Linked DNA regions of Homo sapiens: region 2 is linked to region 1. A link means that fine-mapping ties the variant in region 1 to the expression of a gene that starts in the linked region. Tissue or cell type: lung. Region 1 holds a variant in brackets; the other region holds the start of a gene. All regions are shown on one strand. Distances are from middle to middle.

Region 1 (2,901 bases):
TGCGCCTCGACATCCCTGCCTGCCACAACGTGAGGGGCTGGGGACAACAGGGCAGATGGGGAGCCCTAGCCCCTCTTCTCAGGAGTGCAGGTCCTGCAAGGGCCCCCCTGGGAAAACATGAGCACCAGCAGTGGGAACCACGGGAGAGGGTGCACCTAGGCACAGAGCCGCTGTTTCAAAGGAGGGCGCCCTGTGAACAAGCTGAATTGCTTCTTTCTGGCAGTGACTAGGTCTGAACACCACTTGATGGGTGAAGACAGGCTTCAGCAACAGACATGCATCCTTACCCTGCCGGAGAAGGGCCCCAGCGTGACAGGATGGCTCCTGACATGTGGTCAGAGAGCCTGCCCTCCTGCGCCAGTGGCCGCCAGAGGCTGATGGGGTCGGCCTGGGCTGGCCCAGCTTTCGGAAGCACTGACTCCCACTCAGGGCTGGTCAGGGACACGGGCAGATGCAAACTGTCTCTGCACGTGGCAGTAAGACCCAGTCTTCTGCCACGGCTGAGGGAGACGTGGACAGAGGCCTAGCACCATGTCCAGCACAGAACGTGCCCAGCAAGAACCGGCTGGGTCCTTGGGAGCCGCTGCACTCAACACGCACCCAGGAGGCTAGGACGCCTCAGGGACACAGCTCCAAAGGGAGTTTAAAGGTCACAAAGGCAGGAACGTGGCAGCTCTAATGAGAGAGACTGGGAGATGACTTACGTCAAAAGACCAGGGTAGGGCATAAAATCAAAACCAAGAGCAAGTAGCAAATACAGAAGGAATAATAAAAATTACTGTATTTTCGAGAATCTTGAAAATATAATGATCTGAAAGCATTCCCTCAAAATTGTCAAAAATTGGAGGAGGGAAATGGGGAGTCAGGATTGGGTAGGCTCAGAGTCACGTGGCCACCTGGCAGCACAACTCCCACGTGGGTCAGAACCTTGCTGCTATTGATTCTTGTGGTCCAGAATTCTTGGTTAAAAAAAAAACTAAACATATAGAGCTAGGTCATGATCAAGCATTAAGCCTTGGCCTCTCTAAGGGATTCATTTTCAATAAATGACAGAGAGACATGTCCTTCCAGCAGGGGCCCGGCACAGCACTGAGTGTGGGTGCCTGTGGACGCCACGGACACAGGACCTGCTGCAGCATGGAGCCTGTGGACAGCCATGGACGCAGTACCTGCTGCAGCGTGGAGCCTGTGGCCACGCTGCCAAGCTGCTTCCTCAGTTCCTCAAGCTCCTGCATGGAGATCTTGGAGGCCGCGGCAGGGACGTTGATGCTGGTGGTACTGCTGCCCACAGCAGCGGCTGCAAGCTCAGCTCTTTCTTTTGCATTCTGTTGTAAGTACTGCAGAGTCTGAAAACATGTAAAACTGTGTGTTCACACTGGGCCAGCACCTCTTTGGCCATAGGGGGAGAGTAGGGACGACACCACCAGGACGGCTCCCCAACCCTGACAGGCACCCATTAATAGCAAAGCGACGCGTGCGACAGGCAG[G/A]AACTGAGCGTGACACATGCGGGAAGCTCAAAGTGCCCCAGAGGCTGCTTCTCATGTTTACACCCAACATGGGTTATCTTTCATTCTGATTCACCAAAAATTTCCTACATGGCCTAGAAGCGTTACTGGTGTGAGCGAGGAAGAGCTGACAGGAAGATGGCGTGGAGTGAGCAGGAGACGCGACCCCACTCCCAACATGGGCCGTACGGGCGCAGTGTGGCACGTGGCATGGGCACCTACCTCTTTGTCTTCCGTGAGCTTTGACAACAGGTACACCAGCGGGTCAAGGTTCCTTGTATTTTTAGATTTCAGTTCATCATATTTCTTTAGAAAGTCTTCTGGAGTACGAGAAAACTCTGCAATTTTAACCTCAAAAGCACAAACATGAGTGATTTAATGACGGTAATTAATAAAGCACTGTAAAAAAAAACCTTTACGAAAATTGAACACAATAAGCCAATGGAATTAAATTGGGTAGGTTAAATAATTATCCCTCTGAAATAAACTAACAAAACTCATCTCCATATTGTGTTAAACTTATCCATGTTTTGAGCTAGGCAGTGGCTCATGACTGTAATCCCAGCACTTTGGGAGGCCGAGGCTGGTAGACTGCTTGAGTCCAGGAGTTCAAGACCAGCCTGGCCAAAATAACAAAACCCCATTTCTACAAAAAGATTCAAAAATTAGCGAGGCGTGGTGGCACTTGCCTGTGGTCACTACTTGGGAAGCTGAGATGGGAGGATCACATCAGCCTGGGAGGTTGAGACTGCAGTAAGACAAGATCGTGCCACATGCATTCCAGCCTGGGTGACAGAGTAAGACTCTGTCTCAAAACAAAACAAAACAAACCTTATCCGTATTTCCCATTATGGTTCCTTTCCTTTTGTGCTTCTTCGTATTATTTTAATTTTTTCTAGAGACAGGATTTCACCATGTTGCCCAGACTGCTCTCAAACTCCCAGGCTCAAGCCATCCACCTGCCTCGTCCCAAAGTGCTGGCGTTACAGGTGTGAGCCCCTGCGCCCGCCCTTTTATGCTTCTTCAGGTTTGTACTGGAGAGTAGCGACTTACACTTCCCCCCAGTAGTTTATGCGTTCATTGTATACATTTCACTGTATTCCCTTTTATGCTGCTTCAGGTTTGTACTGGAGAGTAGCAACTTGCATTTCCCCCCAGTAGTTTATGCGTTCATTGTATGCATCTCACTGTGTTCCCTTTTATGCTTCTTCAGGTTTGTACTGGAGAGTAGCGACTTACCTTTTCCCCCCAGTAGTTTATGCGTTCATTGTCTGCATCTCACTGTATTCCCCGCAGTAGTTTATGCGTTCATTGTATACACCTCACTATGTTCCCTCTGGAATTTGTTATTATGTGCAACCCTAGGGGTTATGCTTTTTCTTTTGGACGGAGTTTC
Region 2 (2,901 bases), 80 kb after region 1:
CAGCTTGGTGGACAGCTGGCCCTGCTGACCCGGGATCCGCCCTGGGTTCCCCATGGCCTGGAGGCAGGAGGAGATGGCCACTGCATCCAGCGTCGCCTCCTGGTGCTGCGGGCCCCTGACGGACAGAGGACGCTCGACCCCTGCCCGCCACCGCCCAGGGAGTCAGCCCGACTCCCAGGCACCCGCCCCTCTCCCTGCCTGGAGCTCAGCTCGCGGGGTTGGCTAGGGAGTGATGGGGAGTGGAATCCAGCGACACCAGGTCACCCTTCCGGGAGCCTTTTCTCCAGCTGGGACGAGAGGGAATCAAAGGAAAGTAAGACACGGCTCAGGAGGCCCACGCCGAGAGCGAAGAGTGAAGCTCACGCTGGCAAACTGGAGCGCGCGGCCCCTCGGCAGAGGACCGGGGCTCAGGAGGCGGGGACGCGCCTGAAAACAGGGCGGGAGCCTTTCCAACCCCCGCGGGCTGCGATGCAGCAGAAAACTCGGCCGCCTGCACCGGGGATTCTCCAGAAACACAGGCGTGCCTGGGTGTGCGCTCAACTTCCCGGGCGAGGGACGTTTCTGCACTTGCCCTCGGCTTCTGAACTTTGTACTTTGCGAGTGTACTTTGTACTTTGGTCCTGTGTCCCTGCAGCCCTGTGACTACACGCGCACACGCAGGCGCGCGCACACGCGAACTGACGGCTCGCTGGCGATGCTGGAGGCTTTCACAGCCCCCCTCCGGACGCGTTAAGCTCTCCCAGGTCCCACCCCTGACACCGTGGCACCCCCAGACCCACTGCGCCCTCGCACTCGACGCGGGTCCCTGGGGGAAGCGCTCGCTGCGCCCTCGTCTCCCTTGGAGGAGACACTGGCCCGCCCGGCCGGCCGGCTTCTCCCTCCATGGGGACGCTCGCGCGCACCGCCCGGCAGCGCGGGACGCTCCCTGACGCCTGTCCTCGCGGGCCCTCCCACGCGGGGCGCTTCCCTCTGAGACCCGAGCCCAGTCCGGAGGCTCGCGGAGGCCGAGGCGCACTGTGGGGCTCGGCCCGGCCCCTTCCCCGCCCCTCCCCGCCCCTCCCCGCCCCTCCCCGCGCCTCCCCGCGCCTCCCCGCGCCTCCCCGCGCCTCCCCGCCCCTCCCCGCGCCTCCCCGCCCCTCCCCGCGCCTCCCCGCCCCTCCCCGCCCCTCCCCGCCCCTCCCCGCGCCTCCCCGCGCCTCCCCGCCCCTCCCCGCCCCTCCCAGCGCCTCCCCGCCCCCTCGCTCCGCCTCCGGCCTCCTCCGAGAGCTCCAGACCTCCCGGCTACTCAGAAGCCCTCGGACTGCCCGGACCGCGCGATGGAGTCGACCGGCAGCGTCGGGGAGGCCCCGGGCGGACCCCGGGTGCTGGTGGTGGGCGGCGGCATCGCGGGGCTGGGCGCGGCGCAGAGGCTCTGCGGCCACTCCGCCTTCCCGCACCTGCGGGTCCTGGAGGCCACGGCCCGCGCCGGGGGCCGCATCCGCTCGGAGCGCTGCTTCGGTAACCGCCCCTCCCGGAGCCCCTCCCGGAACCCAACCGGCTGCGCCCGAACTCGCCGGCCCCAACCTGCCCTGCGCGCAGCCGACCTGCCCGGCCGCCTCACCGGGCTCCCCGAGGGAATCCCCGCTCGCTTAATCCGCCAGAGTTCACCGCCCCGAAACTCAGGGCTCAGAGTTAGTCAGGAGGGCGCCGGCCAGGGAAGGCGACCTACGGCTCCACAAGGCCGCCCTGATTCTGCCCCACGGGGGCCCCCCCAGCCCCGGGGTACGCCCACCCTGCGCCCCTCCCTCTGGTCCACACCGCCCGACAAGTGCCCTCCTGCCCAGGTGCTCCCCTTAAACTGGGTCTGACAGGGCCCTGCCCTGGGGGACCACAGGGCCCTTGGGGACAGTGTGGTACATCCTCCTTGGGAAGGCCAGCGTGGGCGTGGCCCAGGAGAAGGGCTCGGGGTGACCCTTCTAGGAAAGGGACCTCCAGGTGGCATCTGCTGTCCCCTCGCAGGTGGCGTGGTGGAGGTGGGCGCGCACTGGATCCATGGGCCCTCCCGGGGTAACCCCGTCTTCCAGCTGGCTGCTGAGTACGGGCTGCTGGGGGAGAAGGAGCTGTCCCAGGAGAACCAGCTGGTGGAGACCGGGGGTCACGTGGGCCTGCCCTCCGTGAGCTACGCCAGCTCCGGGGCCAGCGTGAGCCTCCAGCTGGTGGCGGAGATGGCGACTCTGTTCTACGGCCTGATAGACCAGACCCGGGAGTTCCTGCACGCTGCAGAGACCCCGGTGCCCAGCGTCGGGGAGTACCTCAAGAAGGAGATTGGCCAGCACGTGGCCGGCTGGACAGAGGATGAGGAGACCAGGAAGCTGAAGCTGGCCGTCCTGAACTCCTTCTTCAACCTGGAATGCTGTGTGAGCGGCACCCACAGCATGGACCTGGTGGCCCTGGCACCCTTTGGGGAGTATACCGTGCTGCCGGGGCTGGACTGCACCTTTTCTAAGTGCGTGCCTGAGCCCCTGCCCCGCCAGTCCTCCCACCAGGCTCCCCAGGGCACCGGGGCTGGCTGAGCTCCGCTCTTGCTTGGGTATGGGAGGGACAGGAGACCATTTGTCCTCCCCATTCCGACAGACTGGTTGCTCCTTTCCCTAGTTTTGCTCATTTAAGCCAAAAAAGTTATTTCTGAGAGAGAGTGTTTAAAAGAAGGAAAGGTAAGGCTGAGTGCGGTGGCTCACGCCTGTAATCCCAGCACTTTGGGAGGCTGAGGCAGGTGGATCATGAGGTCAGGAGTTCAAGAACAGCCTGGCCAACATGGTGAAATCCCATCTCTACTAAAAATACAAAAATTAGCCGGGCGTGATGGTGCATGCCTGTAATCCCAGCTACTCGGGAGGCTGAGGCAGGAGAATTGCTTGAACC

The links. PIP is the estimated chance that this variant, and not a neighbour inherited with it, causes the effect. A credible set is the group of variants that fine-mapping cannot tell apart.
Region 2: PAOX starts here. The variant in region 1 is the best candidate, but not a certain one, in a credible set for the expression of PAOX in lung (TOPMed, PIP 0.78).

What each region holds. Positions count from the first base shown.
Region 1 is chr10:133,298,258-133,301,158 of GRCh38, forward strand. TUBGCP2 (tubulin gamma complex component 2) reads right to left here. Exons shown (of 18, transcript NM_006659.4): 3 at 1,728-1,856; 4 at 1,170-1,346. Among named protein-coding and RNA genes, the nearest start is that of TUBGCP2, 9.2 kb to the right of the region's middle. The variant G/A (reference allele first, on the strand shown) is at 1,488.
Region 2 is chr10:133,378,001-133,380,901 of GRCh38, forward strand. It overlaps PAOX (polyamine oxidase), which reads left to right and starts at 1,262. Exons shown (of 7, transcript NM_152911.4): 1 at 1,262-1,497; 2 at 1,999-2,485. The coding sequence starts at 1,317. It overlaps LOC124902563 (a long non-coding RNA gene), which reads right to left and starts at 891. Exons shown (of 2, transcript XR_007062395.1): 1 at 1-891. RefSeq lists an enhancer at 355-854 and silencers at 828-1,087, 1,188-1,597.